Linked DNA regions of Homo sapiens: region 1 is reported to be linked to region 2. Evidence: microRNA targets listed by miRTarBase, many of them from high-throughput screens and not tested one by one. Region 2 holds a microRNA gene; the other region holds the end of a gene's coding sequence.

Region 1 (4,000 bases), not on the chromosome of region 2:
CATTTCACCTCTTAAATACTGTATTTACTTTCCCTAACTATTGCCATTTTGAAAAAGAAAACTTTTATTTGAATTTACTTTAATCTGTGTGTTATTAATAACAGTAGGTTTTGGCTTTCAGGAATTAGCCAGTTCTACAGATACTCAGGTATCTACTGTATACAAGTTGTAATGACAAATTGAGAAAAGGATAAGTTTCTCACTTCGGTGAGCTTATAGTACCTCTCTAAAAGACAATTAAATGCTTTTACCTGCTTATAACATACAAGCTATATAGTATGGTACATATCATGAAAGTACAGAGTAAAAATGTTAACATGTTTTTGAACTCTGGAATATTGTTTTAATTTTCAGTGTGAAAAAAAAGGTGCAGTTTGATGGAACAAATTCCGCATTTAAAGAGCTGAAGTTTTTAACACCAGTGAGACGTTCTCGACGTCTTCAAGAGAAAACTTCTAAATTGCCAGATATGTTAAAAGATCATTATCCTTGTGTGTCTTCATTGGAACAGCTAACGGAGTTGGGAAGAGAAACTGATGCTTTTGTATGCCGCCCTAATGCAGCACTGTGCCGGGTGTACTATGAGGCTGATACAACATAAGAGAAATAAAGCTCTGTTAGGGAATGGGGTTTTTATTATTTGTGGGGTGTTTTGTTTTGAGTAGCTTTATATTGCTCTTAGGTCTGGAGTTGGCCATGTACCTATGTATCCTAAGCATTCACGGCAGTGAGCTCCTTTACTAACATTCATGTTATGGCAAGAGTTGTCCTCTACATTGGAAAGCTAATCCTACCTTGTCAGTTTCAACCAACTGAGTTTTTTCTTTAAGAAAGGTAAATTTTGTCAGCTAGTTTACTATGTTCCTTGAATATAAACAGGTTATAATACTACCCTGTTCACTTTACTAAATATAAGTACAGTAATGATGCATAATTAGAAAATGAGGTATTCTAGGTAAAATGTATGTTTGCCTTGACATGTTTTTAAAAGTTATGATGTACCTCCCTGCCTTTAAACAGAATACTTTTTTCTTTTTTTTGGCCTTTCTCAGATTAGTCAAAAATTCTATAGAATGACTCACTTCGAATACTAAGACACAGGAGGTTTAGCCTGCTTTCTTACCAAATTCATGTTACCCAGACTTGTGTTCTCTTGCGTCCCTTGGACTGCCTGTTGATTGATGGAAAGTGTCTGCACTGACACTTTTCGTCAGTAGTCTGTAGTTTCGTGGCCTCTTTTGATTATAACTGGGGTCACCAAGAAGGTTTACTTAATTAAATACCGCATTTCTAAGAGAAGATACTTTGTGTAAGAAAAGATGCCACATTTAGTGGTTTAACTTTTGTAACTTCACTTGATAGTTTTTAAGCAATTAGAATGGAGTTAGGGAAAGAACATATCATACTGAACAAATGTCATTCTAGTTTAGATAGCATTTCTAAGATAACTGATACTAATACTTGTTTTCTTCCCTATAACATAAAAAACTTCACTGTTAAGTCATGTCCCTTGAAACATGATAGTTACATACACAGTTTTCTCTCCACACATAAATAACACCACTAAAGTTGTTTTGTAAGGTTCCAAACTAATATGGCATATATCAACTCTACAGTTTCAAATAAATGACTTTTTAATTGTAAAAGATTAGTTGAAAAACTGTATGAATGTGAAGATCACATGCTTAGTCATTTTTATGTTCATTCCACTTTGTATATCTTTTCTATTTATTGACTTCTCATGTTCTAGAGAGTAGGACTTTTATTCCGTGTACCTGATATATATACAATTAAAATATCTGTGTAATTATGTTTTAATGAAGTTTATTTCAACAGATATTTTATGAAATGCAGTTTAACCACAGTGAATGAATTTTAGCTTTGCTTTTGAAATACATTGTAAGATTTGACTTGAGGTTTTTGACACTTAAGTACATGCTTAATGATATATTTTCAAAAGTCATCAGTCTACTTACATAAACTTTACCTAATTTTTTTCACTTTAACAAAAACATAACTATGCCCTTGTTTTTTCATACTTTGACCCAAAATATGCCATTTTGAAATAAAATTTAAGCTTTGATACACTCTCAGCTTTTTAATATCTGTACCATATAATTCATTTGTCTGTATAGCAGAGTTTGAAATGCCTCTGTTAGAGAACTCAAGATACAACTTTTATGTTTGGACAAGTTTTTAAGAGTGTTTTTTTTCCTCCTTTACCTGAGGGGAAAATCTGTCTCTAAATATTCCTAGTTCTAACATTCAACCAGAGGTCTAACCCCTTTTCTGGTGCTTAAGGACAGCTATGTTATCTCTCCCCTAGGTTTGTTCCAAGCTAAATGATGTGATACCGTGCATAAGCATCCAGTAGAGACATAACAGGGACCCCTCTTAAGGGCCCGCTTGGATCTTCCCGTGTATAGTAATAAAGGAAAAATCTTGAGTCTCTTCAAGGGAAATTCCAGGTAGCTACCTAGCTAGCCTCAAAAAAGTAAATTGAACATCCTGGAATAAGGAAAAAAATGTTTCGTTTCCTATAGTAATGAAAGAACATCTTGACGCTGAATTTTTTGGAAACCCAGATCCATACCAGATAAAAATGCCAACCACTGTCAAGTGGACCTCAGGTAAGGGGAAACAGGACTGAACTCTAAACCACCATTCTTGTCCGTCTCGGCCTCCCGAAGTGCTGGGATTACAGGCGTGAGCCACCGCACCCGGCCACAGGACTGTTGGTAACACTAAATGAGACAGTGTAAGTAAAGGGCCCCATGAGTGGCCCACCATCCTCTGAGCTTCCAATGCTATGTGGCCAACATTTTGTTTATTCCTAGATTCAACTTCCCTTTGCATTGTGACATTAGCTTTTTTGATAAATTCTACATATGTGTTTGTTTATTGTCTGTATCCCAACCAGTCAAAACCACCATGATATGCCTGTACTTGCTCTATTGAGAATAGATGTTCTTTCTTTCCAATTTATAGCAAAGATGGAGTCAGTGTAGGGGGTGAGTTGGTAACACCTGTTTCACAACTCTAGGGAGCAATATTCTCACGGACAAGAGTGAAAGATGGCCTCTGAGAGACTGTGCAACTTCACATCCTGGCTTTGTATCCTCCAACCTACACACCTATCTGTTTCTAAGCCTTTTTTTCCTACTTTTTCTTTACCTCTTCTACCTGTGCTTAGGAACTCATGCTTTCCCTTTAGCATCAAGCTTCTTGGAGAAGGAGAAGTTATCTACTCCATTGCTCCTCTTTTATTAGCAATTTTCTTCCTCTTTTCCATTCACTCTTCAATTAATTGCAGTCTAGCTTTTGCTTTCCCTAGATTGAAACACATTCCAGAAAAATCAGTTTAATTACATGGCCTTTGCACTTGCTCACTGAAACCTTTTATCACTCTATTACATTAGATTCATACCTCTCCCAACCCTAATTCCATATCCTCCTTACCTGATTTATTTTTCCTCAGAGCACTTATTCAATTAAATATTCACGTATTTATTTGCTCATTGTCTGTGTTCCCGACTAGAATCTAATCCTAGAGGGCAGGGATTTTCATTCCTTTTTCTTTTTTTGATATGCAATCTTGCTCTGTGGCCCAGGTTGGAGTGCAGTGGCATGATCTCGGCTCACTGCAAGCTCTGCCTCCCGGGTTCACGCCATTCTCCTGCCTCAGCCTCCTGAGTAGCTGGGACTACAGGCACCCACCACCATACCCGGCTAATTTTGGGTATTTTTAGCAGAGACGTGGTTTCACCGTGTTATCCAGGATGGTCTCGATCTCTTGAACTCATGATCTGCCCGCCTCGGTCTCCCAAAGTGCTGAGATTACAGGCGTGAGCCACCGCGCCCGGCCAGGATTTTTATTTTCTATTTTGTTCACTGCTTTATCCCCAGTGCCTTGAATAGGAGATGCACCTAATGGGTGCTTCATGCATATTCACTGACTTGGACAAATAAATGCATTTTCTTATCTCCAGATTCATTGTGT
Region 2 (4,595 bases):
TGGAGAAGGTCAGACCGCCGGCTGACTGACTAGCCTAGGTCAGTTCGGGGAGGTTAAGGGCCACGTCTGAAAGTCCGCAGCCCACCTTCTTTCTACTGCAGCGGACACCCTTCTTGATCCCTCACCCCAGTACATGAACCCCACCCAGCTGGGCCCCAGACAGGCCCCACAGCACCGTCATGTGAGCTTCAGGCACAGTGAGTTAGATGAAGACATGGGTCTGGCAGAGTGGCCTGGGGCGGTCCCTGACCTCTACTCTTACAATGGAAGAGACTGCAGCCTTTTGAGAGAGTTCTGCGAATTGAGGGAATGCATTCTGGCTGTTTTGAGCCTGCAGCTACCACGTCCTGCAAGGAAGCAAGCAGCTTCTGGGACCAGCCTGCAGCCCTCCTGTGGGGGAGTAGAGCTCCTCAGACCCCAGTGGCAGCCCTTCCTAGCCTAGGCACCTCTGGCAGGCCGGGAGGGCCCTATGGGACCCCAATAGCAGATCCCCACTTGTGTTTATCAGCGACAGCCACTGTGTCCTGAGTACTGCATTCCAGTGCCCCACGCCCCAGGCAGGCAGCTATGCAACAATACACCTGGCTAATTTTTTAATTTTAATTTTTTTAGAGACTGGGTCTCACTATGCTGCCCGGGCTGGTCTCGAACTCTTGGCCTCCCAAAAGGCTGTGATTACATTCATGAACCATGGCTCCTGGCCTCCCCAGAACGCTATACTAGACATGTGTTCAGGCTTACATGTGGTTTGTGGAATGGAATCTTAGGAGCATCTGCAGCCTATCCAGCCTATTGGGCTGGTGACAGGATGATGGACTCCCAGACAAGATGGTGCCAATTTGGAACATTCTGCCTCGGCCAGAATGCCAATACCTTCTAATATTTGGCTGGTATTGTCTTGAGGAACTTCTCAGATGGCTCCCACTTCCGGTGGGATGGTAGCTTCCTTACCCCATCCCTGTGTTGCCTGAGCAGACGTCCCTTGTCCTGAAATGTCACCACAAAAGTCTAGGCACTTCAGGCCAGAGGGTTAGGCAGATTTGTAATGGGAGCTCCCCAAAGGCCTTACCAATGACTGCCTTATTGCTGGTGTCCAGTGTTTTGGAGTGTTGACTTTTTATCTACCTGGAGAAGGTGTGACACCACACCCTCTGCCACAGGCACCAACATACAACGGATATGTGAGACTAAGCAGGGCTGATGCAGTAAATTGTACATTTCCAGAGATATTTCCCTCACTACTGAGTGAGACAGCTACACAGAGCAACCCCACAGTGATGCAGTGAAGACAAACCACCAGGAAACAAAAACTTTCTAACTCATTCTGCAAGGCCAGGATTACCCTGACACTAAACTCAACAAAGACATCACAAGAAAAGAAAACCACAGACCAAAATCCCTTATGAATATAGATGTAGAAATCCCCAGCAAAACACAGTGGACTCTTGAACAACACAGGTTTACTAATACATAGATATTTTTCAACCAAATGTCGATCAAAAATACAGTATTTGGCTAGGCCCAGTGGCTCACACCGGTAATCCCATCACTTTGGGAGGCTGAGGTGAGAGGATCACTTGAACCCAGGAGTCTGAGGCTGCAGTGAGCTATGATCCTGTCACTGCACTTCAGCCTAGGTGGCAAAGCAAGACCCTGTCTCCAAAACTACTAAATAAATAAATTAAAATAAGTGGTGGGTGCCTGTAATCGCAGCTACTTGGGAGGCTGAGGCAGGAGAATCGCTTGAACCCGGGAGGCAGAGGTTGCAATGAGCTGAGATGGCGCCATTGCACTCCAGCGTGGGTGACAGAGCAAGACTCTGTCTCAAAAAAAAATAAAAAACAAAAAACAAAAAATTCATATGGAAATGCAAGGGATCCAGAATAGCCAAAATACTTGGGTATTTTGCCTGGGTAACATAGGGAGACCTCACCTCTACGGAAAGGTAAAAAAATTATATGGGCATGGTGGCATGTGCCTGTGGTCTCAGCTACTGGGAGTCGGGGGTGGTGTTGAGGTGGAAGGATTTCTTGAGCCTGGGAGGTTGAGGTTGCAGTGAGGCATGTTTGTGCCACTGCACTCCAGCTTGGGTGATAGTCAGACCCTGTCTCAAAAAAAAAAGAAAAAAGTAAAGAAAGAAATTAAAGGCAACATAAATAAATGGAAAGACATCCCATGTTCATAGACTGTAAGACTTTAAATATAAAATGGCAGTATTCCCCAAACTGGTCTACAGATTCAGGGGTTGCATAGATTGAGTGCAATTCCTATTGAAATCCCAACTACCTGTTTTGCAAAAATCATCAAAATTCATGTGGAAATGCAAGGGATCCAGAATAGTCAAAATACTTTTGAAAAAGTTTTGGAGGACTTACAATTCCTGATTTCTAAACTGATTGCAAAATGACTGTAATCAAGATTGTGGTGGTGACATAAGAGTAGACACATAGATGAACGGAATAGAATTGACAGTCCACAAATAAACAGTTACATTTATCGTCAAGTGATTTTTTAAAAATAGACTTTATTAGCTGGGAATGGTGGTACACGCCTGTAGTCTCAGTTACTCAGAAGGCTGAGTTGGGAGGATGGCTTGAGCCTAGGAGGCTCAAGGCTGCAGTGAGCTTGATCATACCTGTGAATAGCCTCTTCACTCCAGCCTGGGCAACATAGCAAGACCCTGTATCTAAAAAAAAAAAAAGTTGAGTTTTCAGAGCAGTTTTATGTTCACAGCAATATTGAGCAGAAAGTACAGTTCCCATATACTTCTGCTCCCACACACGTGTAGCCCCCTCTCCCACTACTGACATCCAGCACCAAAGGGGCATATTTGTTACAATCGATTAACCTACATTGACACATCATTATCACCCAAGGTCTATAGTTTACATTAGGGTTCATTCTTCCGGTTGTACATTCTATGGGTTTGGACAAATGTGTAATGACACATAGACACACCATTATTGTATCACACACAGTAGTTTCATTGCCCTAAAAACCCTCTGTGCTCTGCCTGTCCCTCCCTGCTAACACCTGGCAACCACCGATCTTTTTCCTGTCTCCATAGTCTAGTCTTACTTTTGCAGAATCTTATATAGTTGGGATTATAGAGTATATTGCCTTTTCAGGCTTCTTTCCCTTAATAATATGCATTTGAGATTCCTCTATGACTTTTCATGGCTGAATAGCTCGTTTTAATTTTATTTTTTATTTTTGAGACAGAGTCTCACTCTGTCGCCCAGGCTGGAGTGAAGTGGAGTGATCTTGGCTCACTGTAGCCTCTGCCTTCAGGATTCAAACGATTCTCATGTCTCAGCCTCCCGAATGGCTGGGGACTGCAGGCGTGCACTGTCACACCAGGCTAAATTTTGTATTTTTAGTAGAAATGGGGTTTTCCCATGTTGGCCAGGTTAGTCTCAAACTCATTTCCTCAAGTGATACACCTGCTTCAACCTCCCCAATGTGCTGGGATTACAAGCGTGAGCCACCCAACCAGGCCTGTGCTATTTCTAAAATGCAGGAGATGAAGTTGCCATGTGAAAGATGCAACATTCTTATCTTCAAGGATGAGAAGTTGAAATGAGAGAATTCTATACAGACCTTGTTAAAACACTGTTATCTTTTAAGCCTCCCCATATAATTTAGTTGCCTCTTCATAACTTATTATTATTTGTCCAATTCAGTGTATAAGTAACAGACTCTAACTTCTTCTTTGGGTCTTCAAATGTCCTTATGAGGGTTCCCAACCCATGTAAAACTTGTACTCAATAAATTTGTGGGACTGTGTGGTGGCTCACTCCTGTGATCCCAGTGCTTTGGGAGGCCGAGGGGGGCTTGCTTGAGTCCAGGAGTTCAAGACCAGTCTGGGCAATATAGTGAGATCCCGGTTCAACACTTTTTTTTTTTAATTAGATTGGTGTGGTGGGTGGCATGTACCTGCAGTTCCAGCTACTCAGGAGGCTGAGGTGGGAGGATAGCTTGAGCCCAGGAGTTTGAGGCTGCAATGAGCTGTGATCTCACCACTGCACTCCAGCACCCCTTATTTATAAATAAATATAATGGCTAGCCTTAGGGACTCTGTTCGCAAGATTAAAGAACAGAAATCAGATGTAGAATAGCATATAAATAAATTTATGTGCTTTTCTTCTGTTAACCTGTCCTATGTCAATTTAATTCTTGGGCCCAGCTGAGACTCTAGGGATGGAAGTGGAGTTTTGCCACCCCTACAGTTTCTGGTGACAAGGATGGGATCCTCTCAAGCCTAAAGATGGGATCCTGGGAGAACAAATAAAAGCGGGCACAGGTAGGAATTCTTACCAAAGTGAACTCTTTTTTTTTTTTTGAGACGGAGTCTCGCTCTGTAGCCCAGGCTGGAGTGCAGTGGCACGATCTCGGCTCACTGCAAGCTCTGCCTCCTGGGTTCACGCCATTCTCCTGCCTCAGCCTCACACGTAGCTGGGACTACAGGCACCCGCCACCACGCCCGGCTAATTTTTTTTTGTATTTTTGGTAGAGACGGGGTTTCACCGTGTTAGCCAGGATGGTCTCAATCTCCTGACCTCGTGATCCGCCTGCCTCGGCCTCCCAAAGTGCTG

The links. The annotated mature microRNA hsa-miR-649 reads AAACCUGUGUUGUUCAAGAGUC and lies in region 2 at 1,441-1,462, opposite strand. An mRNA with a match to its seed (bases 2 to 7 or 8) in the 3' UTR can be bound and repressed. Matches are read on the target gene's strand: a 7mer-m8 pairs with bases 2 to 8, a 7mer-A1 pairs with bases 2 to 7 and ends in A, and an 8mer does both.
Region 1: the mRNA of CKAP2 is a reported target of hsa-miR-649. Seed matches in the 3' UTR shown: 8mer at 876-883.

Annotation. Positions count from the first base shown.
Region 1 is chr13:52,474,541-52,478,540 of GRCh38, forward strand. It overlaps CKAP2 (cytoskeleton associated protein 2), which reads left to right. Exons shown (of 9, transcript NM_018204.5): 9 at 355-2,087. The coding sequence ends at 601. Among named protein-coding and RNA genes, the nearest start is that of CKAP2, 21 kb to the left of the region's middle.
Region 2 is chr22:21,032,751-21,037,345 of GRCh38, forward strand. MIR649 (microRNA 649) reads right to left here and starts at 1,522; the gene lies at 1,426-1,522.